Homo sapiens: one gene and its partners. The protein of the gene in region 1 purifies or fractionates together with the protein of each later gene. This does not show direct contact. Each region holds a gene or a part of one and is shown in the gene's direction. Other genes may lie near its edges. The genes, in order: ARL13B, SACS, IFT52, PDXDC1, IFT46, IFT81 and STK25.

Region 1 (4,835 bases):
TGAGAAGAAAAGGTATCACCCCCTTTGTTCCCCATAAGGCACAGTATTTTGGAGATAGCAAGCTGTATGAGATGTATATAAATTTGAATTAAAATTACATGAGGCTGGGTGCCATGGCTCATGTCTATAATCCCAGCACTTTTGGGAGGCCGAGGCAGGCGGATCATTTGAGGCCAGGAGTTTGAGACCAGCCTGGGCAACATGATGAAACCCTGTCTCTACAAAAAATACAAAAATCAGCTGGGCGTGATGGTGCACGTCTCTAGTCCCAGCTACTTGGGAGACTGAGGAAGGAGGATCACTTGACCCCAGGAAGCGGAGGTTGCAGTGAATCGAGATCATGCCACTGTACTCCAACCTGGGTGATAGAGGGAGACTCTGTCTCAAACAAAACAAAACAAAACCAAAAAAAGTTACATGATTTAGTAAAGGACAGAGACTAATTTAAAACCTATATGTATCTTAGTCTCAAATCATTATATTCCCCGCGAATACACTGGGATTCTCAGTGCCTTCTATCCTTTCATCAGGATTTGAAAATATTTATTTAAGTAGAAAATGAATGGACACACAGATCCCTACATATTGTGCATAATTTTTTCCCTACAGGAATGTCCTTGTCATTTCTTTTTCTCCAAAGTATATAAAAGAAATGCAAATATTACATACCTCTTTAAAAAATAAACTATTACAAAACAGTCAAGAGATAACAATCTTCATCTTGCAGATACCAAATAGCCAGCAATTTATGTACCTAAAAATCCTGAAACAAACATACATCAAAATGGTTATTTATTTATTTTTGAGACGGAGTCTTGCTCTGTTGCCCAGACTGGAGTGCAGTGGCGCGATCTCGGCTCACTGCAACCTCCGCCTCCCGGGTTCAAGCAATTCCCCTGCCTCAGTCTCCAGCGTAGCTGGGACTACAGGCGCGTGCCACCACACCCGTTTTTGTTTTTTTTTGTTTTTTTTTTTTTGTATTTTTACTAGAGACGGGGTTTCACCATGTTAGCCAGGATGGTCTAGATCACCTGGCCTCGTGATCCGCCCGCCTCGGCCTCACAAAGTGCTGGGATTACAGGCGTGAGCCACCGCGCCCGGCCCCAAATGGTTATCTTTGAGAGCTCCTGTGAGATCTCATTTTCTTCATCTTGTTTCTTTTTAGTATTTTTCACATTTTCTACAAGAAATGCATTTTTCTTTTGTAATCACAATCCCCCCTACAACAAATATCATACAATTCCGTTTCACATATGTAACAGTAATAAACGTTTTAGAGATTAAGGCTTCACTCTCATCTGAACTACTGAGAAAATTTAGCAAGCGAATTTCCCCCTTGTCTTTAACTTACAAGAATTGCCCCAGTGTATTGTTCCTGTAGTCATGCTGCCTAAGTCGGCCAGAATTCTAGAGGGTCCCCATCCCTGAGCAAAAAACAAACAAACAAAAAACAAGAAAAAAGAAAGAAAGAAAAAGAAAAACCCATGCACAAGACCTGAGATCTCTGAATCTCAGTTGGGGACACTGGAGAAAGGAAAGGAACAGCACCGTGGATTGGCAACACATTTTATGTAGGTATAAAGATAGGCCTTGCTGGAGATTTGTCCCGGATCCTCCAGCTTATCTCCGGACGCTCCGGTTGCCTAGTTACGAGAACGAGCTACCTCGAGCTCCGCCTCCTTCTTATAGAGTACTCCCCTTTCTCTTTTCCTAGTCTCGCGCAGGGGCGGGTAGCCAGGACTCTTCAGCCACTCAGAGGCCTCTACCTCAGGACCTCAACCGATGATTGGGCGAGCGCAGTACGGGCGTTGCCTGGGGAACGCCTTCCGCGCCTCGAAGTAACGTCAGCACGTCGACGCGGGGCTTTTCTTTAGCCGGGTCCCGCTAACTCGGCTACGGTGTATCTGCGTCTTTGGTCAGGTTGTTCCTTGGCTAAGAGGGCAGTCGTCGCGGACCCACGCGGTTAGCAAGGCTTAGTGCTCGGGCCGGCCGCCTTCACTTCCCTCCCGGCTTTTCCTCCCGACTTATCCACTTTAGGGGCGTCTCGGAGTGCCGGAGGCCCCCGGGGAAGAGCGGGGTGCCGGTGTCCGCTCCGGGCTCGGATGGGAAGTGGTGGGAGGAGCGACCCGGGATGTTCAGTCTGATGGCCAGTTGCTGCGGCTGGTTCAAGCGGTGGCGGGAGCCTGTCAGGTAGGCTGGAGCCAGCTGTCCTGGCCGTCCTAGGGGTTGGAGATGGCTGCGCCCCAGGGGCGAGGCGCCGCCTTTTCCCCGCGCCTGGACGAGTCTATCCCAGGCCGCAAGGGATGCTTTCATTCCCAGGGTGTCCCGGGAGGGAGAGATTGGAGGATGTAGCCTTGTTGTCTGGTCGACTTTCTGTTGCGATTGACAATGCTTACCGTTGTTATATTTTAAATAGGTTTGAATTTGTTAAAAAGTGTGTGTGTGTGTGTGTGTGTGTGTGTGTGTGTGGAATTGAAAACTATCCATTGTGTGTTTTTCCTCTGAAGCTTTTGTAATGGAAATTCTTTTAAAAAGAGGGGGACATGGAATATAGTTTTCATAATATCCGCACATTCCATTCCAAGTCACACCTCCACACAGTTGTATTTGAGGACGTGGGCTTGAAATCTGGCTCCACTACTTAATAATTACATGACTCAACCATTTTGGCCCCACCTTTCTTAAATATTAAATGAGAGTGATAATACTCTGCTTTAGAAATATTGTATTCAATGAGAACAAGTGATAGTGTTTTCTTAACTGTAATGTAGCTTCCAATTTTTATACGGTCTCTAGTAAAACCTTTTAATTGAAAGGGTCCACTTTTTAACATTTCATTTTGAAATGCTGGAAGTATTAATAATTAGTACCTGTTACTTGATATTCATTCATTCAAAAAATATTTATTAAGACAATACCTTGTGCCAGGCACTGTCTTAGGAAATAATCAGTGAAATTGATGCTTTTGAAACTGAGGCCTAACCTATAAAGAGATCTTGTGTTTGTTACACAAATAATGTTGACTTCACATAGTTCTAGTCTGGAATTGGGCCAAGGGTAAGATAAAGCAAAGTTGTTTTTTTTTTTAAATTGTTAACATTTTAAGTATATTTGCCATGAGAATGAACTATCCTTTAAAGAATGAATCTGAAAAGCTACACTTACACATTATAACAGAAAATACATGTCTAGATTGGAAAAAAAGTAACTTTAAATGAAACTAGAGATTCTTCCCCATTATTAGCTCCTAACTGAATTTGAATGTTTTAAATATAAGTAGTAAGATCAACTCTGTAAGTCAAAGATGGGCTGGGTGTGGTGGCTCACGCCTGTAATCCCAGCACTTTGGGAGGCCGAAGCTGGCCGATCTTTGGAGCCCTGGAGTTCGAGACCAGCCTGGTCAATATGGCGAAACCCCGTTTCTACAATAAAATAAACGGGCACGGTGACGCACGCCTGTAGTCCAAGCTACTTCGGAGGCTGAATCAGTAGGATCACTTGAGCCTGGGAGGCGGAGGTTGCAGTGAGCCGATATCGCTGCACTCCCTGAGTGACACAGTGCAACCCTGTCTCAAAAAAAAAAAAAAAAAAAAAAAAGAAAAAAGTCAAAGAGTTGTTTTAGGTGCATAGATTCTGATTTATTTGCTTTAATTATATTCTGGTCTAATTTCACAGTATCTACTAAGACTTGAGGGTCATTCATAATAGTTGACCCCTCATTTTCCTCCGTGTCTGCTTTTAAGAAATGTATTTGGTTTCTGTGAAGGCATGTATATAACTTACGTTCTTTTAACGAGAAACAGTGAAAACGTGTAATTCGAAGAAGGAGTGTTCAATTTAATTCATCATTCTTAGTCTTTCCTTTTCTTAGCAGCTTTTGTATATATACTCTCTGGAATGATTTGTTTAAAGAGAAGAGTTCAGAGAAAGGAGAATGTATTGATTTCCAAGTAGAACAGATAATTGAATTTTCTTAATAAAGCATTATTAAAATTTAGCTGCATAACCCAGAGTGTATTTTCTTCTTTAATAAGCACCATCTAGATTTGTCCTGTCCAGTAGGGTAACAACGAGCTACACGTGGCTGTTGAGCACTTGAAATGTGGCTAGTCTGAATTAAGATGCTGTAAGTGTATGTTTAATACATAGTGGGCTTTGAAAAAAGATTTATTATGCAAAAAAGTCAGCATCTTATCAGTCTTTTAAAAGTATGATTACATGTTGAAATGATAACTTTTGCATATGCTAGGTTAAATAATATATTAGAATTAACTTTTTTTTACTTTTTAAAAAATGAGATTACTAGAGAATTTCAATGTATATGTTGCTTATGTTAACATTTCTGTTGGATCTTACTGCTCTGGATCATAGCCTAATATAAAGGACATAGGTAAACATCTCAATTTGGATAACTGTCAAAGAATTTGAACACAAGTTGGATTACCCCTGTCTTCTAAGTCCCCTTGTTCAATGCCTGATTTATAATAGTGGCTGAATAAATATTTGCCAAATATTGTATGTAGTTCGATTTTTCTTAGTAATAATCATCCTGAAGTAAATAACATTAGCAAGTAGTTCCATTTATTTTACTGGAATAAATGAGAGGTGAGCAAGCTAATTTTAAAAACAAAATTTTGTGCTTTTATGGTGTTCTCTATTTTTTCAACAGAAATTGCCTGTTTGATTATTATGTATATATTTGTTTTCTGTAGAATTTCTTATTAAGATTCCTCTTCATGTTTATATTTTATGAAGATGAAATGTGAGGAGTGAATTTGTAAAAGAGATGATGATGGTTATTAATATACTATATTTGAGATTACTTTGCAGATTTG
Region 2 (4,107 bases), on another chromosome or scaffold:
CCTGTTTGAAACTGTGTAACTCAAAGAACTTTTCCCATCAGTGAGTAAGTGCAGCTGGCATGTTTATCTTCCTACTCCTTAAATGAGATCATATGTACAGTAGTGCCAAGTTTTCCTACTGTGGGTCAAGCCCATATGCCAAAATAGGATATTTTTGCTGGGAAGGCCAAGAGGTCACTGCGTGGCACATCTGCTTGCTAGCTGTGGGCAGTGGCTTGAGGTTCCAAGCTGGGGAGGAGGGGAGCCCCTGTCCCTAACAGCTGCTGGACAGCACTGATTGTTTTGACCCCTGAAGCATGAGAGGAGGTCATGAATCAGTGGGCAGAGAGTATCATGAACACATTTCATGTCACTTCATGTGTTAAAAAATATTAGATCAGCAAAAGTAGTAGCATCTAATATTTGCAAAAACCGTCTGCAGTTGACTAAATGCTGTTAGAACACAGCTCAGTTTGGTGTTGCGGTGATACAGTTCATGGATAAGGCAAGCTGGCCCTGTTTAGGGATGAGGAAAGTTGGGCACAGCGAGATTATGCGATTCTCAAGCCATGGTGAGGAGAAGACCGAAGAATGTTCTCTTCCATCAGGTGGTGCTACTCCCCAAATGGTAGGGTAGAAGCAGCGTTCCTCTTCTGAAAAGAAAGAGAAGGAGGAAGAAGGAAATGAGGTTTGAGGGGGTGAAAGGAAAATATCTTAGGCCCCCAAAATCACTAAGGAAAACTCAACCCAGGAACTGCTTAGGGCAAACCTGCCTCCCATTCTATTCAAAGTCACTCCTCTGCTCTCTGAGATAGATGCATATCTGATTTGCCTCCGTTGGAAAGGCTAATCAGAAACTCAGAAGAATGCAACCACTTGTGTATCACCTGTCTGACTCACTTCCAGTCTTCTTGCTTTTGCTTCAAGTTGTCCCCCCTTTCCAGACCAAACCAATGTACTTCTTTTTTTTTTTTTTTTTTGAGACGGAGTCTCACTCTGTCACCCAGGCTGGAGTGCAATGGCATCATCTCAGCTCACTGCAACCTCCACCTCCCGAGTTCAAGCAATTCTTCCATCTCAGCCTCCCGAGTAGCTGGGATTACAGGCACCCACCATCATGCCGGGCTAAATTTTGTATTTTCGTAGAGACGGGGTTTCACCATGTTGGCCAGGCTGGTCTTGAACTCCTGACCTCAGGTGATCTGCCCGCCTTGGCTTCCCAAAGTGCTGGGATTACAGGCGTGGGCCACTGCACCTGGCCTGTACTTCTTACATATACTAACTGATGTCTCATGTCTCCCTGAATGTATAAAACCAAGCTGTGCCCTGACCACCTTGGGCAAATGTCATCAGGACTTCCTGAGGCTGTGTAAGGGGTGCGTCCTCAACCTTGACAAAATAAACTTTATAAATTAACTGAGACCTGTCTCAGATTTTCTGGGCTCACTGAAGTCCTATACTTGTGTCAGGCACTCAGTCGTGGGGAATAAGTAAGAGCTGGGAGCCACCGGGATTTAAACGAAGTATGGGCTGTTGCTGGACTCTTCTGGACACCAGTTTCCTTCTCTGTATAATGAAATTCACAATTCCCTACCAAATCACTAGGCTGTTATGAGACTGAAATAAGATCATCCCTATGAAATCACTTTAACAAATCTAAAATACCATGCCCCTGCAAGGTAATCTTATTGTATTGCATTTTAATTTTACTACCAGTATCATTCCAATTGTATAAAAATTTTGTATATACTAATATTCTCTGCCTTGTCACACAGACCCCCGGCGGCCATGCTCTAGCTCATAGGCACGAGCCCACTCCCGCAGGGAGTCAGGCGGGGTGGAGCTTCGGGGCCCCAAGTCCAGCACCCACCTGAGATCTTCACACCCTGAGCAGAGCAGTCGGGGCAACTTAACTGGGCACCAAGTGGGCAAAAATGGCGCCTTCCCCACCACATGTGCAGAAGGGTGAATTCCTGGATGTTGAGGGGTGGGGGCACAGAAACTCCCTGCCCGCTCTCCCCAGGAAGAGGGCAGGGCCCATGGGGACAAGGATTCCCACCTCTTCCCCACCACCATGGACATAAGGCCTTAGTGGACACCAAGGCCCCAGCACGACATCAGGCCCCAAACGACACTGGACTCTAGGTGGACACTGGACATCAGACACCAGGTTGATGCCAGGCCCTAGTCAAGTGGACTCCAGTCCCTGCATAAACATCAGGTCCCAGTTTGGCACATAGGCCCCAGGTGGACACCAGGCCCCTGGTGGATGCCCAGGTTAATACCAGGCCCCAGGTGGACACAAGGTCCCAGGTACATTCAGGTCCCGGGTGGAAACCAGGCCCCAGATGGACATCGGGCATCTGTATGTCAGGTCCCAGGTGGACACATAGGCCCCAAGTGGATGTCTAGTCCCCAGGTAAATACCAGGGCCAAGGTGAACAGGAGGCCCCAGGTGGACACCCTGACCCCAGAGGACCATCCAGCTCGAGGTGGACGTCAGGCCCCAAGTGGACACCAGTGTCCAGATGGACATCAGGCCCCAGGTAGACACTCGACTTGAGGTGTACACCAAGCACCAGGCTCACGCCCAGGCCCCCGATGGATACAATGAAACAACAGGTTCCATTCAGTGATATAATAAAGCACATCCCAAAGCTCCTTCACCCATATCTTCATGATAATTAACTGAGCTGGATAGTCACATGTTCATATATAGGCCTAATAACCTCAGAAATGTAATTGTTTAGATTCTACAAAACCTGTGTTTGGACTTGTTTAATGGAAACTCAGGTTCCATTCAGTGATTTAAAACAGCACATCACAAAGCTTCTTTGTACATAGCTTGGTTTTCGTTATTAGTACTGGACGTTCATATGTTGATATATAGGCCTGATAGCCCCTGAAATGTCATATCTGAGATTCTACAAAACATGTGTTTGGAACTTGCTTCATGGAAACACAGGTTCCATTCATTTATATAAAACAGCACATCAGAAAGTTTCTCCTCACATAGCTTGTTTTTCATTATTAGGGCTGAAAATCTATGTAGGTACAATAGTCTCTGAAATCTCATTTCCTTTTTTTTTTTTTTGAGACAGAGTTTCCCACTTGTTGCCCAGGCTGGAGGGCAGTGGCGTGATCTCGGCTCGCTGCAACCTCCGCCTCCCGGGTTCAAGTGATTCTCCTGCCTCAGCCTCCCAAGTAGTTGGGATTACAGGCATGCGCCACCATGCCCGGCTAATTTTGTATTTTTAGTAGAGCCGGGGTTTTTCCATGTTAGCCAGGCTGCTCTCGAACTCCCGACCTCAGGTGATCTGCCCGCTTTGGCCTCCCAAAGTTCTGGGATTATAGGCGTGAGCCACCATGCCCGGCCTGAAATCTCCTTTCTTAGATTCTCCAAAACATATGTTTGGAAATTGTATAATGGAGATTCCAGTTGCATTCAGTGATATAATAAAGCACATCAGAAAGCTTCTTCACACATAGCTTGTTTCTAGTTATTAGTAGTGGATATGTGTATATTCATATATAAACCCAATAACCTCTGAAATGTCATTTTTGTAGATTCTACAAAACATGTTTGAAACTTGTTTCATAAAAACACAGGTTCCATTCAGTGATATAAAACAGCACATCACAAAGCTGTTTTTAGTTATTAGGGATGGATACTCGTATATTCATATATAGGATAATATCCTCTGAAATGTCATTGCTTAGGTTCTAAAAAATGAGTGCTTGTAACTTGTTTAACAAAAACACTGGTTCTTCTCATTCATATGAAATAGTACATCCCAAAGCTCAAAGCTTCTTCACACATAGCTTGCTTTTAGTTATTAAGGCTCCGTATTTTTATATATAGGCCTAATAGTTTATATATAGGCCTAATAGCTTCTGAAATCTCATTAATTAGATTCCACAAAATGTGTGTTTGGAACTTGTTTAATGAAAACTCACGTCCCATTCAGCGATATAATAAAGCACATCACAAATGTTCTTTGCACATAGCTGTTTCTAGTTATTAGGGCTGGATATTAGTAGGTTCATATAGAGGCCTAATAATCTCTGCAATGTCATTACTTAGATTCTACAATACGTCCTTTTGGAACTTGTTTAACAGAAATGCTT
Region 3 (4,107 bases), on another chromosome or scaffold:
GGTGAAACAGGTGTTTCAGAATAATGCATATGGTAAGATCCTATTTCATAAAATAAAACTGTAAGTTAATATATGTATAAAAAGAATCTCGAGCTGGGTGCAGTGGCTCACACCTGTAATCCCAGCACTTTGGGAGGCCAAGGCAGGTGGATCATGAGGTCAGGAGTTTGAGACCAGCCTGACCAACATGGTGAAACCCCGTCTCTACTGAAAATACAAAAATTAGCTGGGCATGGTGACACGTGCCTGTAATCCTGGCAACTCAGGAGGCTGAGGCAGGAGAATCGCTTGAACCCGGGAGATGGAGGTTGCAGTGAGCCAAGATCACACCATTGCACTCCAACCTGGGAGACAGAGCAAGACTCCGTCTCAAAAAAAAGAAAAATAGAATCTAGAAGACTATACCCTGCGCTTAACAGTAGTTAGCAGTAATGAATCAGGATGGAAACATGGTCTTGGGACACAAGAGCAGGGTGATGGCAGGGCAGAGCCATAGGTGTAGGCTGTTGGGAGGATCTGGGCAAGAGGCAGAAAGCAAAAGCGGGTAGGGGAGGGCTGGGTTGGTTTTGGTCTTAGGTTTCTGTGCTATGCTTTTGCATTTCACTCTCAACCTTTGAGAATTGTAGGAGTTTCCTAGATAGGTTTCAGTTGTATACCCTTTCTTGATAAATTAGTAGTAGAAGGCAACTATTTATTACTTTTAGGGTCTTTGGAATATTGTTTATTGATTTTCTGATCCCATCTTTCTTCCATAAGGTAACCATGGAGAAAGAGCTGCGGAGCACCATTCTTTTCAATGCCTACAAAAAGGAGATATTTACCACCAACAATGGCTACAAATCCATGCAGAAAAAACTTCGGAGTAATTGGAAGATTCAGAGGTGACTGACCATGTATATTGTTTTCCCTTCTAAATGATATTGTCCTGCTGATAAAGCTGAGAAGTCTTTATTTTCTTAGGTAACATAGATTGTTTAGGTGGGAGAAGCTCAATTTAAAGATTATTCAGAATTAGGTCTGGCGTGGTGGCTCACACCTGTAATCCCAGCAGTTTGGGAGGCTGAGGCGGGCGGATCACGAGGTCAAGAGATCAAGACTGGCCGGCACGGTGGCTGACACCTGTAATCCCAGCACTTTGGGAGGCCAAGGCGGGTGGATCATGAGGTCATGGGTTCGAGACAAGCCTGGACAAGATGGTGAAACCCCATCGCTACTAAAAATTAAAAAAAAAATTAGCGAAGTGTGGTGGTGGGCGCCTGTAATCCCAGCTCCTTGGGAGGCTGAAGCAGAGAATTGCTTGAACCCGGGAGGCAGAGGTTGCAGTGAGCCGAGATTGTGCCACTGCGCTCCAGCCTGGGCAACAGAGTGAGACTCCGTCTCAAAAAAAAAAAAAAAAAAAAAAGAAAGATCAAGACCATCCTGGCCAACATGGCGAAACCCTGTCTCTACTAAAAATACAAAAATCAGCTGGGCATGATCGTGCGTGCCTATGGTCCCAGCTGCTCGGGAGGCTGAGGCAGGAGAATCGCTTAAATCCAGGAGGCGGAGGTTACAGTAAGCCGAGATTGCGCCACTGCACTCCAGCTTGGTGACAGAGCGAGACTCTGTCTAAAAAAATAAAAAAACATTATTCAGAATGAAATAAATTCTTATTAAAACGTCTCTTGGGCAGGACGCGGTGGCTCATGCCTGTAATCCCAGCACTTTGGGAGGCTGAAGCAGGCAGATCACTAGAGGTCAAGAGTTGGCGACCAGCCTGGCCTACATGGCAAAACCTCATCTCTACTGAAAATACAAAAATTAGCCAGACATGATGGTGCATGCCTATAATCCCAGCTACTAAGGAGGCTGAGGCACAAGAATCCCTTGAACCCAGGAAGTGAATGCCTGCAGTGAGCCGAGATCATGCCACTGCACTCCAGCCTGGGAAACAGAGGGAGACTCTGTCAAAAACAAAAATTAAAAAAAAAATGTCTTTCGAAATCAGCAATTAGGATATTATTAAAGCAGCATATTATTAAGTTGTTTTCCAAATCACAAGCCAAAAGATTATTCTAATTATACACATGTAGCTTTTTAAGATGTTAGAGGCTTTCTTCATATTTTGACTCAGGTCAGTACTAGGGAAAGGAAACATGAGAATTAAATGAGAATAACTTTGTGTATGTGCATGTTTTTCTTAATAGGTGAGGATATGTAATCATACAAGCTAATGGTAGGGCTGATTGAATTAGTAGTTGCAGACTTCCTTATGCTTTAGCATGGCTTGATTTGAACACCTTGACTTACTGGAAGTATTTGAACAGAGGCCAGATGACTCTGGGGCAGGCCTGTAGAGGGAATTCTCACTTTGGGAGAGAGACTGGACCAGTTACCTCTAAATCCCTTCATCTCTGAGCCTCTGTGGCCTCTGCTTCCAAATAGTTAAGAGACTAAAATAATACATAAATTGGTTTAAATTATGGACTTCATATTTGCTTTTAAAATTGTATTTCCAGCTTAAAAGATGAAATCACATCTGAGAAGTTAAATGGAGTGAAACTGTGGATTACAGCTGGGCCAAGGGAAAAATTTACTGCAGCTGAGGTAAGAAATATCCACTAAAGAAGGAATATGGTGAAATGATTAGGAGTCTGAGCTTTGAAATACCGGATTTGAATCCCCCTTCACCACTTACTGTGTGGCCTTAAGGTAGTCACTTCATCTCTCTTTTCATCATGGAGTTGTGATGATTAACTGAGATACTCCATGTAAAGTACCAAACACATAGTGTGGGCCAATTAAATATTAGCCACACTTCTTTTTTTTTTTTTTTTTTTTTTTGAGACAGAGTCTCGCTCTGTCGCCGAGGCTGGAGTGCAGTGGCGCAATCTCGGCTCACTGCAACCTCCACCTCCCGGGTTCAAGCAATTCTCACTGCCTCAGCCTCCTGAGTAGCTGGGACTACAGGTGCCCACCACCACGCCCGGCTAATTTTTGTATTTTTGGTGCAGATGGGGTCTCACCATATTGGCCAGGCTGGTCTCAAACTCCTGACCTTGTGATCTGCCTACCTCAGCCTCCCAAAGTGCTGGGATTACAGGTGTGAGCCACCGAGCCCAGCCAGTAGCCACATTTCTTTGCTATATTTTTGCTTTGAAAATAGGAAAATTCCGCCAGGCGCGGTGGCTCACACCTGTAATCCCAACACTTTGGGAGGCCGAGGCAGGCAGATCACCTGAGGTCGGGAGTTCAAGACCACCCTGACCAACATGGAGAAACCCCGTCTCTACTAAAAATACAAAATTAGCCAGGCGTGGTGGCGCATTCCTGTAATCCCAGCTACATGAGAGGCTGAGGCAGGAGAATCGCTTGAACCTGGGAGGCGGAGCTTGCTGTGTGCCAAGATCGCGCCATCTCACTCCAGCCTGGGCAACAAGAGCAAAACTCCATCTCAAAAAAAAAAAAAGAAAGAAAATAGGAATTCATTTAAAATAAAAGTGTTTATTATTCTAGTTCATGGAATGGATAAAGAATGATAAATGTAAGGCCCAGAATACAAATGACAAGTATTGGTGAGAATGGGAAGTTATTGGAACCCTTCCACACTGATGGTGGGAATGTAAAATGATGCAGTCACCATGAAAAACAGTATGGTAGTTCCTCAAAAATTTAAGCATAAAATTGCCATATGATGGCTGTGTGTGGTGGCCCACGCCTGTAATCCCAGCACTTTGGGAGGCTGAGAAGGGTGGATCACTTGAGGTCAGGAGTTCGAGACTAGCCTGGCCAACATGGTGAAACCTCATCTCTACTAAAAATACAAAAATTAGCCGGGCGTGATGGTGTGCGCCTGTAATCCCAACTACTTGGGAGGCTGAGGCAGGAGAATCACTTGAACCTGGGAGGCGGAGTTGCAGCGAGCAGAGATCGGGCCACTGCACTCCAGCGTTGGCAACAGAGTGAGACTCTTTCAAAAAAAAAAAAAAAAAAAAACTGCCATATGATCTAGCAATTCCACTTCTGGGTATATGCCCAAAAGAATGGAAAACCAGATCTCAGAGATAGTTGCACACCTATCTTCCTAGCAGCGCTATTCACAATAGCCAAAAGGTGGAAATAGCCCAA
Region 4 (4,107 bases), on another chromosome or scaffold:
AGGGGCATTTTCTTTTCTTTTGGGCTAAATTTAGGTAGATTAGCATTCCCATGTAACTTACCAGAATCAGAATGAGAATTCAGAAGTCACCTGAATTGGCCGGGCATGGTGGCTCACACCTGTAATCCCAGCACCTTGGGAGGCCAAGGCAGGCAGATCATCTGAGGTCAGGAGTTCGAGACCAGCCTGGCCAACATAGTGAAATCCCGCCCCTACTAAGAATACAAAAAATTAGCCAGGCATGGTGGTACACACCTGCAGTCCCAGCTACTTGGGAGGCTGAGGCAGGAGAATCACTTGAACCTGGGAGGCCGAGGTTGCAGTGAGCTGAGATTACACCACTGCACTCCAGCCTGGGGGACAGAGGAGACTCCATCTCAAAAAAAAAAAAAAAAAAAAAAAAAGTCATCACATGAATTCCTTTTTTGTTGTTGTTGAGACAGGGTCTTGCTCTGTCACCCAGGCTGGAGTGCAGTGGTGCGATCATGGCTCACTGCAGCCTTGACCTCCTGGGCTCAAGTGATCTTCCCACCTCAGCCCCCGAGGAGTTGGGACCACAGGCATGAGCCACCACACTGGACTAATTTTTGCATTTTTTGTAGAAATGGGGTTTTGCCACGTTGGCCAGGCTGGAATTCCTATATTTTGATGTCTTGTGACTCTCGATTTTCCACTACAAGGGTTCTCACTCCCCACTGCACATTAGAGTCATCCGGGAGCTTTACACACAACCAGTGGCCGCCCACCCCCAGAGATTCTAGAATGGAGCCTGGGGATCTGTGTTTTGGTTTTTATTTTTTTTTTAGAAACAGGGTCTCATTTGTCACCCTGGCTGGAATGCAGTGTCTTCACCATAGCTCATTGCAACCTCGACCTCCTGGGCTCAAGCAATCCCCTGCCTCAGCCTCCCAAGGAGCTGGGACTACAGGCGAGCACCACCACATCTATTTTTTTTTTTTTTTTTTTTTTTCCATAGAGACGTGGTCTCACTCTGTCACCCAGGCTGCTCTTGAACTCCTGGCCTTAAGTGATCCTCCTGGCTCAGATTCCCAAAGCACTGGCCACTATAAGGATTGCCTGGCCACAGCTCTAGATACTTAGTCTCTAAAACTGCAAAAGTAAGCCAGTGAGCCCTGAGGCCCGGCGCTGTCACCATCTCCCTGTCCTTCCTGTGTGGGGACAGCAGCCCACCACAGTACTTCCCTTTCTCTCAGTCATAGGAATGTACAGAATCTGTGGTTGCCTTTTTGTGCTGAACCTATGGTGTGATGTCTCCAGCCTGCCTGAAGTAGGCTTGCTGTGGGAAGAGTGATTTCTAACACTGGAGTATGTCATTGTGGGCCACATCTGTGAGAGAAACACTCCACACCTGCTACAGCCAGCTGTGTCTGTTTCTAACCCTAATTCTTCCATATCTGTGTTGAGGGCCTTTTTTTGTTTAAATCTCCATGGCTCCCGGTAACTGGAGTACCTCGAGCTTTTGACCTTCCCAGTAGTGGAAGAGGGAGCCCTGCCCTCTTGTCATTGGCCATCTCGTGAGCATTTCTCTGACATTGTGAACATCTTCAGTTTTAGGAACTCGGGGAGAGGATGTGGATCAGCTCGTAGCCTGCATAGAAAGCAAACTGCCAGTGCTGTGCTGTACGCTCCAGTTGCGTGAAGAGTTCAAGCAGGAAGTGGAAGCAACAGCAGGTCTCCTATATGTTGATGACCCTAACTGGTCTGGAATAGGGGTTGTCAGGTAAAGTCTTGGCCTGCCGCTTGATGTTGGAGACTTTTCTGTATAAAGAACATGAGTGGGTCATTTTCTGAACCACCTTAGAAATCCAAGATGAACGTGTAGTCACAATATGCTTAACGAAAATGCAACTCGGTTTTCTGGGCATTTACAAAAGCACAGTGCAAGCAGGCAATTTGGCCAGCGTGGCGCTCAGGGAGGGGAGTTGCTGAATGTTCTGTCTGTAGGTGCCGACTCTCAGCTACCTAGGAGAAGATGCCAACAGGTATATATCACTCACTGAGAATGGTTACTATCCAGGGCATATAGAGAATTGCAAATCAGTAAGAAAAAGAACCCAGCTCTCGGGGAGAGAACTGGGTGCAGTCCTATGGCTGCTTTCTCGCCTTCAGAGGTGAGGCAAACCTCTTTTTGTATTGCCCATGAGACTTCCAGACCTTGTATGGAACTAAAGACTTAGGCTTTCAGCTGGGCACGGTGGCTCATGCCTGTAATCCCAGCACTTTGGGAGGCCAACAGGAGCATAGATGACTTGAGGCCAGGAGCTTGAGTCCAGCCTGGACAACATGGCGAAACCCCATCTCTAGAAAAAATACAAAAATTAGCCAGAGGTGGTGGTGCACACCTGTAGTCCCAGCTACTCGGGAAGCTTAGATGGAAGGATCAACTGAGCCCAGGAGGTGGAGGTTGCAGTGAGCCAAGATCATGCCACTGCACCCCAGCCTGGGCCACCAAGTGAGACCCTGCTTTAAAAAAAAAAAAAAAAGGCTTTCCTGTGACTTTCTCTTTACTCCTGGCACACTTCCAGAAAGTTTGTGGTCTGGAGACACTCGCAGTAGCTCTTTTGCCCACTGGTTCCACTGCATTGTCTTGCTAATATTTAGAGGTTTCTAATCCTGTATCAGAAGAGACATTTGATCTTTTAAGCTGAAATGCTGTGGTTTGATGTTGTTTTAGGTATGAACATGCTAATGATGATAAGAGCAGTTTGAAATCAGATCCCGAAGGGGAAAACATCCATGCTGGACTCCTGAAGAAGTTAAATGAACTGGAATCTGACCTAACCTTTAAAATAGGTAACTGCTTACTTTGTAAGTCAGCTGTGGGGTTTGGAAGGACACTTGGTAACCGGCTTTGAAGACGACGGCTCATCCCTTAGCGGGCTAGCGCCTCTCGGGCTGGGTTCCAGGCGAAGATGCGGTTCTGAGACCTCCCTCCCCTTCTGCAGCCTTGCCAGGCCTTTCTCTCCGCCCTTAGAATCTCCATGGAGGAGACCCCTTTGTGTGTGGTCAGGACCCTGAACAGGAGAGTAGGTCCACGTCTCACCCATGACAGAGGACTGAGAAACTCAAGTTTGTCTCGTTACCTTTGCAGGCCCTGAGTATAAGAGCATGAAGAGCTGCCTTTATGTCGGCATGGCGAGCGACAACGTCGATGCTGCTGAGCTCGTGGAGACCATTGCGGCCACAGCCCGGGAGATAGAGGAGAACTCGAGGGTCCGTAGCACCCATCAGTGTTCATTCCTCTTCTGAGTTTTGTCCCACCAAACAGCAGGGGCCACGAGGAAAGCAGCTGCCCTTGGGATGTCTGTTCGTTGTCTCTCAAAGTCTGTCAATGTTTCCTGTAAGCTGGGCCTTGTGCCAGGTGTCAGAGATGCCAAGTAGGTTTGACACAGCCCATGCCCCAGTGATCTCACAAGCTCAGGGGGAAAGATCCACATAGCCACGCTGTGTAGTAACCCTGCCTTAGAGAAGAGGGCGGGTAGCTGGACACTCAGGCAGACACATTCACCCCTGCCACCAAGGTCAGGGAGGACTTCTGCTCTGGAGCTGTGTCCTGAGGGTGAATGAAATGGGCTGTTGTATGTGTGGTTCCCCCTACACCCCTTCCCTATAGCACTTCCCACCAGGAATAGACCTACTGCTGTGGGTCCCTTAGCATGGAGGACCAGGATACAAGGCTGATAAGGTATCCTCCAAACAGATGATTACTTCCCTAAAAATCACTCAAAAGGAGAGAAGAGGGACCAAGGTAAGACTGCTCTGAAAGGAGAGAGACACGAGCCATTGGACATGCGGCCGAGAAGCCAGCTTCATTCCTTTCTGGGTGGACTCCTTAAGGTTTCTTTCCAGCCTGACTTTATGACTTCTCTGTTTTCAAGAATACGTAGCAAATGAGGCTGGTCACCAAGGTGTGTCTGCCTAGGCCTCTATGAGCATGTTATCTGCTTGTCTTTGAGTTTCTGTTCGTTTTACGCCGGCTTTTCAATGCAGGATTTCATTGACCTGCTTTTGAAAAATTCCCTCAGTGCTGTGTTACTAGCTCTTCTGGGCCCCAGGTGAGAACCTTAAACAAGTAATGTCTTTCTT
Region 5 (4,107 bases), on another chromosome or scaffold:
AGGCTGGAGTGCAGTGGCACAGTCGTAGCTCACTGCAACCTCAAACGCCTGGGCTCAAGTGATCCTCTTGCCTCAGCCTCTCAAGTAGCTGAGACCACAGGCACACACCACCATGCCTGGCTAATTTTTAAATTTTTAGTACAGACAAGGTCTCACTATGTTGCCCAGGCTGGTCTTGAACTCCTAGCCTCAACTGATCCTCCCACCTCAGACTGCCAAAGTGCTAGGATTACAAGTGTGACCGCCATGCCTGGCCTGGCTGCAGCAGATTTTATCAGGGTTTTCTATCCCCTTCATTTGGCTACTGTTTCACGTGGCAGCAGCTGTCATCAGCAAGCTCGAATATGAAACAGCAGCAGATATAATGAGACACTGTAAAAACAAGAGAGCTACTTCAGTGCCATCAGCTAGGCTTTCTCCTTACTTTCCTAGCAACATATGAAAGTAAAAAGCCTAGAAGATGCAGAAAAGAATCCCAAAGCCATTGACACGTGGATTGAGAGCATCTCTGAATTACACCGTTCTAAGCCCCCTGCGACTGTGCACTACACCAGGTAAGAAATACCACATTCTTTGCAACAGTAACACATAGTAACCTTCACTACCTGTGAACTGTTGCTCCTGAGAAGAGGCCCAGAGGCTGGGAACATATTTGATCAACCTGAGGTCCTGTGGATCCTGGCAACTACTGGCTGAGATTGTAGACATAAAGATTGTAATTTCTCTAGTATTACTTAGCTACCTCCTCCAAACCCCAGGCCCTGGGTAACTTTGGTATGCCCAGTCTAGGTTCTCCTGAAGCCTTCCTGATGTGCCAGATTGAAGACCTCTCCTTCATCCTAGAATATGCTGATCCAGAGGTTGCTGATGTTATCAGTTCACGTTTCTTGTTCATATTTACCTTTATACTTTTAGGCCCATGCCCGACATTGACACGCTGATGCAGGAATGGTCCCCGGAGTTTGAAGAGCTTTTGGGCAAGGTGAGTGGAAGGTAGCAGGAGGTAGGGTAAGAAAGTACAGTATTCGCTCCAGGGCCCAGTGTTTTTTCTCTTCCTCCATTATTATTATTGGTAACTTTTTTTTTTTTTTTTTTTTGAGACAGGGTCTTGCTCTTCCCAGGCTGCAGTGCAGTGGCATGATCATGGCTCACTGCAGCCTCTACCTCCCGGGCTCAAGTGACCCTCCCACCTCAGCCTTACCAGTAGCTGGGACCACAGGCATGCACCACCACACTCAGCCATTTTTTTAATTTTTGGTAGAGACGAGGTCTTGCTTTGTTGCCCAGGCTGTTCTCAAACTCCTGGGCTCAAGCAGTCCTCCTTCCTCAGCCTCCCAAAGTGCTGGGATTACAGGCATGAGCCACTCCACCCAGCGATCATTAATTTTTTTTGTTGAGATGGAGTCTCTCTCTGTCGCCCAGGCTGGAGTGCAGTGGCATGATCTCAGCTCACGGCAACCTCCACCTCCCAATTCAAGTGATTCTCCTGCCTCAGCCTCTCGAGTAGCTGGGATTACAGGTGCCTGCCACCATGCCACCATGCTAATTTTTGTATTTTAGTAGAGAAAGGGTTTCACCATGTTGGCCAGGCTGGTCTCGAATTCCTGACCTCAAGTGATCCGTCTGCCTTGGCCTCCCAAAGTGCTAGGATTTCATTAACTTTTTAATGGTAACACAGGAAACCCATGTATATGTGGTAATTTGATATATAAGAAAGATAGTTTTTTTTTTTTTTTTTTGAGGCAGTCTCACTCTGTTGCCCAAGCTGGAGTGCAGTGGCATGATCTTGGCTCACTGCAACCTCCGTACCCCCCGCAGGTTCAAGCAATTCTCCTGCCTCAGCCTCCCAAGTAGCTGGGATTACAGGCATCTGCCACTGTGCCTGGCTAATTTTTGTATTTTTAGTAGAGACGGGGTTTCACCATCTTGGCCAGGCTGGTCTTGAACTCCTGACCTCGTGATCCACCCGCCTCTGCCTCCCAAAGTGCTGGGATTATAGGCGTGAGCCACCGCGCCTGGCCAAGAAAGATAGTTTTTTAAATGATTGGTGATAGAATTAGGGTATAATGAGACAATTATTTGAAAAAAATTAAAGTAGGTTTCTGCCTCAACTGTATACATATGTGAATTTCAGATGAATTAAAGAGTTAATGTGGGCCGGGCACAGTGGCTCATGCCTGTAGTCCTATAATTTTGGGAGGCTGAGGCGTGAAGATTGCTTGAGCTCAGGACCAGCGTGGGCAGCATAAGGAAACTCTGTTTCCAAAAATAAACAAATAAATAAAAGAAGGGAAAAAAAGAGTTATTGTAAAAATAAAGCCATGTAAGTAATATAATAAAATATAGGAGATACAGAAGGAGCATGACTGAAAAAATAAATGAAATAAAATATAGGAGAAATTTAATTATCTCTTTTTAAAAAATTCAAGTGTCTTATAACTTAGGGAAATTTAATTCTATTAGGATAGTTAGGTGTTTCTCAGTGTAATAAGAAACTTAAAAGTCATATTGAGGCCGGGTGCAGTGGCTTAGGCCAGGCGCGGTGGCTCACACCTGTAATCCCAGCACTTTGGGAGGCCGAGGCAGGTAGATCACCTGAGGTCAAGAGTTTGAGACCAGCCTGGCCAACATGGCGAAACCCCATCTCTACTAAAAAAATACAAAAATTAGCTGGGTGTGGTGGTGTGTGCCTGTAATCCCAGCTACTTGGGAGGCTGAGGCAGGAGAATCACTTGAACCCAGGGGCAGAGGAGGGCACGGAGGTTGCAGTGAGCAAAGATTGAGCAACTACACTCCAGCCTGGGTAATAGAGCGAGACTCCATCTCAAAAAAAAAAAAAAAAGTCATAATGGAGTGGGAGGCTGAGATGGGAGGATTGCTTGAGCCCAGGAGTTTGAGACCAGCCTGGGCAACATAGACCCATCTCTGTTAAAACCAAAAGAAAAGGCCAGCCACAGTGGCTCACGCCTGTAATCCCAGCACTTTGGGAGGCCGAGGCGGGCTGATCATGAGGTCAAGAGATCGAGACCATCCTAGCCAACATGGTGAAACCCCATCTCTACTAGAAATACAATAATTAGCCAGGCGTGGTGGTGCACACCTGTAGTCTCAGCTACTCGGGAGGCTGAGCCAGGAGAATCGCTTGAACCTGGGAGGCAGAGATTGCAGTGAGCCGAGATCGTGCCACTGCACTCCAGCCTGGTGACAGAGCGAGACTCTGTCTCAAAAAAAAAAAAAAAAAGTCATAATGGAGAAAATGTGACAGTTTAAACTCATAGAAATGAAAGGTTCTACATACCAATAGATACCATAAACAAAGTTAAAAGACAGTAGCAGTCTGAGAAAAAATATTTTATATATGTATGTAATAGAAAAAATTACTGTCCAAGCAAAGAGCTCTTATATATCAATAAGGAAAGGAAACTGGGCCAGGCACGGTAGCTCATACCTGTAAATCCCAGCACTTTGGGAGGCTGAGGTGGGACGATCACTTGAGGCCAGGAGTTCAGGACCGGTCTGGGCAACAATAGGAGACTCTTCTCTACAAAAAAAAAAGAAAAGAAAAAAGGAGCTGGACATGGTGGCTCATACCTATAATCCCAGCACTTTGGGAGGCTGAGGTGGGCGCATCACCTGAGGCCAGGAGTTCAAGACCAGCCTGGCCAACATGGCAAAACCCCGTTTCTACTAAAAAAATTAAAAAAATAGCTGGGTGTTGTGGCAGGCACCTGTAATCCCAGCTACTCAGGAGGCTGAGGCAGGAGAATCTCTTGAACCCAGGAGGGGTGCAGATGTTGCAGTGAGCCAAGATTGCATCACTGCACTCCAGCCTGGGTAATAGAGCAAGACTCCATCTCCAAAAAAAAAAAAAAAAGTCATAATGGAGTGGGAGGCCAAAATGGGAGGATTGCTTGAGCCCAGGAGTTTGAGACCAGTCTGGGCAACATAGACCCATCTCTATTAAAAGAAAAAAAAAAGGCCAGGTGCAGTGGCTCACACCTGTAATCCCAGCACTTTGGGAGGGCGAGGCAAGAGGTCAAGAGATCAAGACCATCCAGCCAACATGGTGAAACCCCATCTCTACTAAAAATAGAAAAATTAGCTGGG
Region 6 (4,107 bases), on another chromosome or scaffold:
ACGGAGTCTCACTCTGTCACCCAGGGTGGAGTGCAATGGCGCAATCTTGGCTCACTGCAACCTCCACCTCCTGGGTTCAAGCGATTCTCCTGCCTCAGCCTCCCAAGTAGCTGGGATTACAGGCACTTGCCACCACGCCTGGCTAGTTTTGTATTTTTAGTAGAGACAAAATTTCAACATGTTGGCCAGGCTATATTTTAAGACTTTTGATATTGTTCTTCAGTACAGTGCTATCGGTAATGAGTAAGAGTGCCCATTTTTCCAAATTCTGTCAATACTGACTACCGTGTATATTTTACCTTTACTATTACTGCGATATTTAAGCTATTAGTTTTTTAGATTTAGGAAGGAGTTTTTTTATTTGTTTGTTTTTATAACAAAATACTATGAAGCTGGTTAACAGGAAGGAAGTTTATTTTTGAAGTCTTTATTTTCAGAGACGGAATTGGTTCATTGGAAAAACCAGGTACAAACTTATGTCATGAAAATACCATAGCCTTAAAAATAATTTTGATGGAAAATTGGCAAAATATATGGCTTGGTATTTAACAGAACAGATGGGATGTCAGCAGCTGTTGTTCATGTATTTAGACCTGCACACTTTCCATTATAGAAAATTTTTCAAAAATCATGTGCCCATATTTGGAATCAGAACACAAATGTGCTGGTTGGCAGCTTTACCTTGCTGCATTATAACTGGTTTTTGTTGCATTTCTGGATGAACACCAAGCTGCCAAAAAAATTACCCTGCATAAGAAGCCCTGGGGGAAAAATAGAAATGACCTTCATCCAAAAGAGGATCTTGGTTGTTAATGCTGTGGTTATAAATGATGAAAATGTTAGATGCATAATCAAAATAAAACCTTATCTGTTTCCTACAGACTGAGAATACTTTTTCTTATAAGGTCTTCTTTGCCACTTTTTAGGATATCAGTGCAATGGAAGAAGAAAAGGATCAGCTCATTAAGAGAGTTGAACATTTGAAGAAAAGGGTAAGGCAGAATTAGTACTGTAAGACTTTGGCCCCAAGTCCCAAGGACTTGCAAAGATTTAGGAATGCAAATAAAGATTCAGCCAAGCATGAGTGTACATCTGAGGATGGACTCAAATAACATTGACGAAAAGGGAATCTCTCTAGACAGTAGCCCAGCACTTTCAAGGACCTGGAGCCTAGAGCTTTACTGTCATCTCTAGGGAGTACTGTTTACCAAAAGGAAATGATAAGTGGATGTCTGAGTCACATGACATGCTAATTTTTTTCTTCAAACCTGACAGTAACATGTACTACTTATTCCCTTACTGTAGGTTGAGACAGCTCAGAATCATCAATGGATGCTTAAAATAGCAAGGCAACTTCGAGTTGAAAAAGAGAGAGAAGAATATCTTGCACAACAGAAACAGGAACAAAAGAATCAGGTATCCACATAAAAGTTTATATTCTCAGTATGAAGGAAATAGTTCCTTCTCATAATCCAAATGTAAAGAAAAGAGTTTTAAAATTGTAGACGTTCACGTTCCTTTTGCTAACATAATGGAATACTCTTTTAATTAAGATAAATATTTCAGGCCGGGTGCAGTGGCTAACACCTGTAATCCCAGCACTTTGGGAGGCTGAGGCGGGCGAATCAGGAGGTCAGGAGTTCAAGACCAGCCTGGCCAGCACAGTGAAACCCTGTCTGTACTAAAAATATAAAAATTAGCTGGGCATGGTGGCACATGCCTGTAGTCCCAGCTACTCCAGAGGCTGAGGCAGGAGAATCACTTGAACCCAGGAAGTGGAGGTTGAGGTGAGCTGAGATCACGCCACCACACTCCAGCTTAGGCAACAGAGTGAGACTTTGTCTGAAAAAAAAAAAAAAAAAAAGATAAATATTTTGTGGCAACAACAATACCACTTTTTGGGTTTTATACTCTGAATTGTATCTATACACTGTCTTTTGGCCTATGCTTACCTCGTGTTGTTCCAACATTACAGAAGAGTCATTGTAATGTTAACAGTAAGATTAACTGCTAATAAAACTTCTAGAATCTCTACAGGATGCTTTTAGATTCCAGGGCTATGAGACCATTCTTTTTATTCCAGTGATCACAGTACCCTCTGCAGTTTACTACAATGGCAAATAAGTCATGAAAAGGCTCAAAATCACCTACACTCCATGTTTTTAAACTTTGCCTTAAAGAAAAATAATTTGCTAAGAAATTATTACTTTTACTTATTAAAAATCTATTTTAAAATCTGAGTAGACTTATACATTAAAATATATTTCACATAAGCTTCATTTACTACTAAATCAGCAGTTTAAATGTTTGATTTTGCTGGCACTTGACTTGGCATCGAAGTAGTTTCACTGCAGCAGTAAGCTGCATCGCCTAAGCCCTGAATGGTTACTTGGCGTTGGTTTGTGATTCTGAAACATCACTATATCAATGTTAACATTACTTGGCCTTAAGAAAACCATGTATAACAAGAAAAATCTGGTGTGTGTGTTTCTTTGATAAGTATTTTTCCTTAAACCGCAAATTCAGTAAATAACTAAAGAAAAATTTGTGAAAACTTCCTTAAAAAATGTATGTGAAAAGGTATTGAGAGAACCAGTTACATTTTGGGTTTAATATGGGAATTTTCCGAGTTCTTATTATTTGTTCCTTTTATATCATAAGAATTATATGGAACTTGTATTTTTCATTGCTTGCCTAAGTGAGAGGTAAGCTTCAGTAGACTAAGCAAGTAATCTATTTAATTGTATTTTAAAGCTATTTCATGCAGTGCAAAGATTGCAAAGAGTACAAAACCAGCTGAAAAGCATGCGCCAAGCTGCAGCAGATGCAAAGCCTGAAAGTAAGTGGAAATTATTATATGGTATAGATGATTAGAAAATATTAATTTAAATCACGATCTTCCTAAAAAATCAATTTGTGAGAATTAGTTATCATCAAGTGATGTCTCAGCATTTTGGAACATCATTTCCTAGCTGGAGAAGGAGAGCCCTGATAAAGACATCCCTGGGTTTTCACCAGATGTTTTTAAAAATTCCTAACCAGATGGCCGGGTGCAGTGGCTCATGCCTATAATCCCAGCACTTTGGGAGCCCGAGGTGGCGAGAGGTCAGGAGTTCGAGACCAGCCTAGCCAACATGGCGAAACCCCATCTCTACTAAACATACAAAAATTAGCAGAGCGTGGTGGTGGGTGCCTGTAATCCCAGCTACTCAGGGGGCTGAGGCAGGAGAATCACTTGAATCTGGGAGGCAGAGGTTGCAGTGAGCCGAGACCGCGCCACTGCAGCCCAGCCTGGGCGACAGAGCGAGACTCCATCTTAACAGCAACAACAAACAATTCCTAACCAGTTTTTCACATCAGAGAGTGAAGATAATGAAAACAACTGTGGAGGGAGGCTGTCTGGTTTGTGCTTGTATAAAGGACTTAGCATGGCTGGGCGTGGTAGCTCACACTTATAATCCCAGCACTTTAGGAGGCTGAGGCGGGTGGATCACTTGAGGTCAGGAGTTCGAGACCAACCTGGCCAACATGGTGAAACCCTGTTTCTACTAAAAGTACAAAAAAATTAGCTGGGCATGATGTCATGTGCCTATAATCTCAGCTACTCAGGATGCTGCGGCAGGAGAATTGCTTGAACCTAGAAGGCAGAGGTTGCAGTGAGCCGAGATCGCGCCATTGTACTGCAGCCTGGGCGACAGACTGAGACTCTGTCTCAAGAAAAATAAATAAATAAATAAATAAATAAAGGACTTAGCATGGACGTTGTGAAAATGATGGTTGGAAAAATTATGAATCATTGTTTTAAAGCCAGGGCTATAAAGAAAAAGAATAGAATGCTGGATCCTTAAAACCGAGTGTTTTTCATATTTTGGTTTGTAGAATAACAGTGCTAATGACGTAGGTATCTCTGGCTCTGTTCTTACATTAGCTTAACACAGAGGATAAACTGTCCTAACAGCCCAGATTACACCACCAGATCCATCCTAGGCATTTTACAAAGCATTTTTGCTTGTCAGAAGAAAGACCACGCAAACTGAAAGAGCAGTGGAAAGCTCTCATTTGTACTGGAGAACTATCCCAATGTAAATAGCTGATAGAGGGTTAATT
Region 7 (3,815 bases), on another chromosome or scaffold:
TGACTTGGAAGGTGCCCTGTGCTATGTCGTGCCTGCAGGGACACGTCGGATCCCGTGGGCCTCACATGCCAGGTCACCAGGTCACCGTCTCCTTCCACCCCTGCAGTGTGCTGTTGTGCACGTCAGGGACGCTGTTCTCTATGCCCACTGCCCTCCTCCCTCTCCTGGCCCAGCAGTATTGCTCACGGGGGCTCCAGCCGCCGGCGTGGCCCTCATGAGCTACGCCTGGGTCTTCTGCAGACTCATGCAGCCCTATGGCCGCTCAGACCAAGGCGCAGAGCAACTATCAGGGCAGCTCTGCCTCCTCCTCCCATGAGGTGGGGAGAGGCAACAGGGCAGCCCCCAGAGGAGTGTCCTGGCCGCTGTCCTCCCGGGGCCCATGATGGCCATAGATTTGCCTTGTGGTGTTGGATCAGGTACTGTGTCTGCTCATAAGTACTTGTGTCATCCAGAATGTTTTGTTTTTTAAGAAAATTGAATTACTTGTTTCCTGAAATATTCTGAGGTTAATATGTTAGTTTTCATAGAACATTGAGAGGCCCCTGCCACTTTCAATAAAGACCTGACTTGGAGACATGCAGGTGTGTGTGGTGGGGCCCGGGCCATGCGGGGCTGCAGCGTCCCTGGTCCCGAGTCCTCATCACAGCACGCAGAGACGGCAGCCCAGCCCCCCTTCGAAACTTCCCTGTGACGGATTCCTGGGCTCTGCTTGGCCCACCGGAAGAACAGAGCAGGCAGAGGAGAATGCAGGTGGGGAGATGCTGTTTGTTTATTTTTAATCAAATGTGTGTGAACAAAGCAGTCGCCCATCTACTTCCCGTTGGAAGGAATGCTGGGCAGTAATAAATTAGACGGCCCCACCCTCCCAGGGCACAGGGGGACTTTGGTTTCTGCTTCTCTAGAGGTACATGGGGAACAAGCGTGGCTTCTGCCAGACTTGTTTAGCTGTGACCTGCAGGGCAGGCCCCTGGGGCTGCCACTTGGTTCACCAGATGGAAGGTCAGCATGGCTGTGCCACGCTTGTCTGAGAGGGTCCTGGCAGTGGGTACGCAGGGTGTATGGCAGGGCCTCTTTTCCAGTGCTTGCTCTAGGCCAGTCCTCGGCAGGGACCCTGCTCTGGGGAGAGAGGCAGGGTGTGCCCAGGCTTTGGTCCGATGCCGAGAGCACTGCTCAGGCCTTGTCTGCGTCTTTGAGCCAGGGGCCTGGGAGCTGTGGCTTGAGCGGCTCCGCGCTCAAGACTCGCACATTTTTCCCAGGGCCCCAGATAGCTGCTGGCATGCACTAGGTCCTGGGTGGGGGGATGAAGCCCCTCCCAGATGTTACATGAGGCCCACCCACACTGCTGGTGCCAGTGGGGATCCAGTGAGACCACAGCCACTTCCCATCTGTTGAGAAGCCTCAGGACAGAGGTCACCTCTGTGTCCTGCTGTTCTTTGTAGTTGTGTCCAAACCTGGGCAGGTTGAGCGTCATTCCTCCTTCCCCCTGACCATCCCCTCCAGCCCTGAGGAGGGTTGGGGGCCATCCTGCACGATGCTTGGGGCCCTCCCGGCTGAGCTGCTGGCCCCCTGGATCACCTCCATCCACCTGGAGGAGAGGGCGGCCATCAGACCAGTGAGCCATCTTGTGCTCAGACACTGTCCCAAGAACAACCCAGGATATGGGACAAGCAGGACAAAAGAAGGGTTAAAAACCTGGGGCCGGGTGCGGTGGCTCATGCCTATAATCCCAGCACTTTGGGAGGCTGAGGCAGATGGATCACTTGAGGTCAGGAGTTCGAGACCAGCCTGGCCAACATGGTGAAACCCTGTCTCTACTAAAAATACAAAAATTAGCCAGGCGGCGTGGCGTGCATGCCTGTAATCTCAGTTACTCAGGAGGCTGAGGCAGAAGAATCGCTTGAACCCTGGAGGTGCAGGTTATAGTGAGCCAAGATTGTATCACTGCACTCCAGCCTGAGTGACAGAGGGAGACGCCATCTCCAAAAAAAAAAAAAACAAAGCATTGCTGTTTTTTGGAAATGCTGGAAGCATTGCTCAGCCCTTCCTTTCCAGGGCCCAGAAAACTTGCCTCCACCACCATGAGTAGAAATGGGAGCTGAGCGGACATCGAAATGGGCAGCTGACCAGGGCTGCCTCCTGCAAAATTACCTTTCAAATGTGTACTTGCTCTCAGCCCGGAAGAAGTAGACGTGGGATTTGAACTGGAGCTTGAAAACATAGTCTTTGTGTATGCCATCGGCCTCCCTGGGGATGCTCACGCTGTAGCCCAGCAGCGGGAGGCTGGCCAGTGGGTAGTCATCCTGCAAGACAGCATAGGGACACGGGTTCCAGGGGCTGGGTTGCCACAGGGAATGCCCATTCCTCTGCTACCTGCACAACGGTGGCACGTACAAATGCCCACGGGCCAAGGGAGCCAGTTTCCCTGTTCACACAGCACAGGGTGTGTGGGCAAAGCATGGGAGGGCAGAACCAAAATACAAAAGGGACACAGGTGAGCAGGGTTAAGTGTCTGTCTGCTAGCATCACCTGCATTGGGCTCCAGTGAAACTCCAGTACCTGATGAGTTTTGTAGAAGAACAAACAGAAGTTGGTAAAGACGACCCAGAGCTTCTGCCAGCCATGACTGTTTTTGAACTTTCTTAGCAGATATCCTGAAAGCTGGTTCTGTCAATAAAGGAAAAATGCAGGTGCATTAACCAGCACCCAGGACCCCTTGTGGGAGTGGGTTTGCTCCCCAAGACTAAGCCTCTGCATGCTTTCTCCAGCTGAGGCCTTGGTTTTACCTCTGGACTGCTATGAACAGCAGCTTTATCAGTACTTAAGTCCAACAGAAGCATGTTAAAAACCTAGAGTGACATTCCAGGCACCAAGTAAAGTGAGTTCCCTTTCCCTGTGCACAATAAAGTCAGTGTTCAGTAACCAACCATCCACAAACCCATCCAACAGCCAGAAGAGAGAAGATACCTTAAGAGACAGTACATTGAGCCAAGTCTGGAAGGTTCTTTAAAATGATGGGTGGGGGAGAGGCAAGTAAAGGCACACACAAGATGCCCCACTGCAGCCCTGTCCCTAAGCATGTGGCATCTGTTCTGCCAGGATTAGGCATGGCTTTGGCGCTGGAGTGGCTGGGCTCATGGGGCTCACATGAGCCTCCCGCCTTCAGGGTGGTATTCAGGGGTTGCACTCTAAGATGGCGGAGCGGGCCTAGCTAGGACCCTGCTTAGATCTCAGGTGTCCTGGACTGGCCATAAGCTGGTGGGCCCAGGTCAGGGACCTGCTGCACCCTGACCTACCCAGGGTCATCAGGGGAGAGGCTCGGGCTCAGCCCCCTCACGGGGGTGCTGGGGTAGCTCCTGAGCCCCTGCCCAGCCGATTGTGGCTGGGGTGAATTATGGGGAGACAGCAAAAAAGACAAGAGCTCTGGGTGGAGTAAGACAGCAGGCTTGGGGAAGGGTGTGGGGGCACCAGGCTGAGGAACCTGGTGACCCACAATGGCAGACCGGGCCCATGCAGTGAGATAGAGCTGACAACCTTCTATGGCAGGGTGCCTGGGCAGAGCCTCGAGCTCCAAGCCCGAGGTGAAGGGTTTTGGAGGCACTGGGACGGGGGGCTGCAGGGGATGTGTCTGGGAAGGCTTTTCTCAGCTCCACTACACACCAGCTCCAGGCCCTGAGGACACGCCCCGCCTGCTGGACTTCATCAGACACCAGACCTGAAACACCCTTTTCAAAGAGGGCTTGACTGGATGAGGGGCACTTTCCATACCAACTTCTACCAAGGGGAGAGTAAGAGGCAGTCCTCTGGGGCCAAGCCTG

The links.
Region 2: the proteins of ARL13B (region 1) and SACS purify together in Homo sapiens (co-immunoprecipitation; one large-scale study listed by IntAct). This does not show direct contact.
Region 3: the proteins of ARL13B (region 1) and IFT52 purify together in Homo sapiens (affinity purification with mass spectrometry; 4 studies listed by BioGRID and IntAct, with this or other methods). This does not show direct contact.
Region 4: the proteins of ARL13B (region 1) and PDXDC1 purify together in Homo sapiens (affinity purification with mass spectrometry; 2 studies listed by BioGRID and IntAct, with this or other methods). This does not show direct contact.
Region 5: the proteins of ARL13B (region 1) and IFT46 purify together in Homo sapiens (affinity purification with mass spectrometry; 4 studies listed by BioGRID and IntAct, with this or other methods). This does not show direct contact.
Region 6: the proteins of ARL13B (region 1) and IFT81 purify together in Homo sapiens (affinity purification with mass spectrometry; 4 studies listed by BioGRID and IntAct, with this or other methods). This does not show direct contact.
Region 7: the proteins of ARL13B (region 1) and STK25 purify together in Homo sapiens (affinity purification with mass spectrometry; 3 studies listed by BioGRID and IntAct, with this or other methods). This does not show direct contact.

The regions. Positions count from the first base shown.
Region 1 is NC_000003.12:93,978,293-93,983,127, forward strand, and holds the start of ARL13B (ADP-ribosylation factor-like protein 13B), read left to right. Parts: upstream 1-1,862; 5' UTR 1,863-2,131; coding exon 2,132-2,190; intron 2,191-4,835. UniProt on the Homo sapiens protein: Cilium-specific protein required to control the microtubule-based, ciliary axoneme structure. May act by maintaining the association between IFT subcomplexes A and B. Binds GTP but is not able to hydrolyze fit; the GTPase activity remains unclear.
Region 2 is NC_000013.11:23,423,492-23,427,598, reverse strand, and holds part of SACS (sacsin), read left to right. Parts: exon of another isoform or gene 1-632; intron 633-4,107. UniProt on the Homo sapiens protein: Co-chaperone which acts as a regulator of the Hsp70 chaperone machinery and may be involved in the processing of other ataxia-linked proteins.
Region 3 is NC_000020.11:43,593,937-43,598,043, forward strand, and holds part of IFT52 (intraflagellar transport protein 52 homolog), read left to right. Parts: intron 1-756; 5' UTR 757-762; coding exon 763-881; intron 882-2,498; coding exon 2,499-2,586; intron 2,587-4,107. UniProt on the Homo sapiens protein: Involved in ciliogenesis as part of a complex involved in intraflagellar transport (IFT), the bi-directional movement of particles required for the assembly, maintenance and functioning of primary cilia. Required for the anterograde transport of IFT88.
Region 4 is NC_000016.10:15,030,166-15,034,272, forward strand, and holds part of PDXDC1 (pyridoxal-dependent decarboxylase domain-containing protein 1), read left to right. Parts: intron 1-1,569; coding exon 1,570-1,741; intron 1,742-2,695; coding exon 2,696-2,814; intron 2,815-3,112; coding exon 3,113-3,234; intron 3,235-4,107.
Region 5 is NC_000011.10:118,548,661-118,552,767, reverse strand, and holds part of IFT46 (intraflagellar transport protein 46 homolog), read left to right. Parts: intron 1-432; coding exon 433-554; intron 555-915; coding exon 916-982; intron 983-4,107. UniProt on the Homo sapiens protein: Forms part of a complex involved in intraflagellar transport (IFT), the bi-directional movement of particles required for the assembly, maintenance and functioning of primary cilia. May play a role in chondrocyte maturation and skeletogenesis.
Region 6 is NC_000012.12:110,134,022-110,138,128, forward strand, and holds part of IFT81 (intraflagellar transport protein 81 homolog), read left to right. Parts: intron 1-926; coding exon 927-992; intron 993-1,305; coding exon 1,306-1,416; intron 1,417-2,754; coding exon 2,755-2,839; intron 2,840-4,107. UniProt on the Homo sapiens protein: Component of the intraflagellar transport (IFT) complex B: together with IFT74, forms a tubulin-binding module that specifically mediates transport of tubulin within the cilium. Binds tubulin via its CH (calponin-homology)-like region.
Region 7 is NC_000002.12:241,491,778-241,495,592, reverse strand, and holds the end of STK25 (serine/threonine-protein kinase 25), read left to right. Parts: 3' UTR 1-1,467; coding exon of another isoform or gene 1,468-1,585; 3' UTR 1,586-2,144; coding exon of another isoform or gene 2,145-2,300; 3' UTR 2,301-2,556; coding exon of another isoform or gene 2,557-2,664; 3' UTR 2,665-2,923; downstream 2,924-3,815. Other genes in the region: FARP2 (FERM, ARHGEF and pleckstrin domain-containing protein 2), read right to left, coding at 1,468-1,585, 2,149-2,300, 2,557-2,664. UniProt on the Homo sapiens protein: Oxidant stress-activated serine/threonine kinase that may play a role in the response to environmental stress.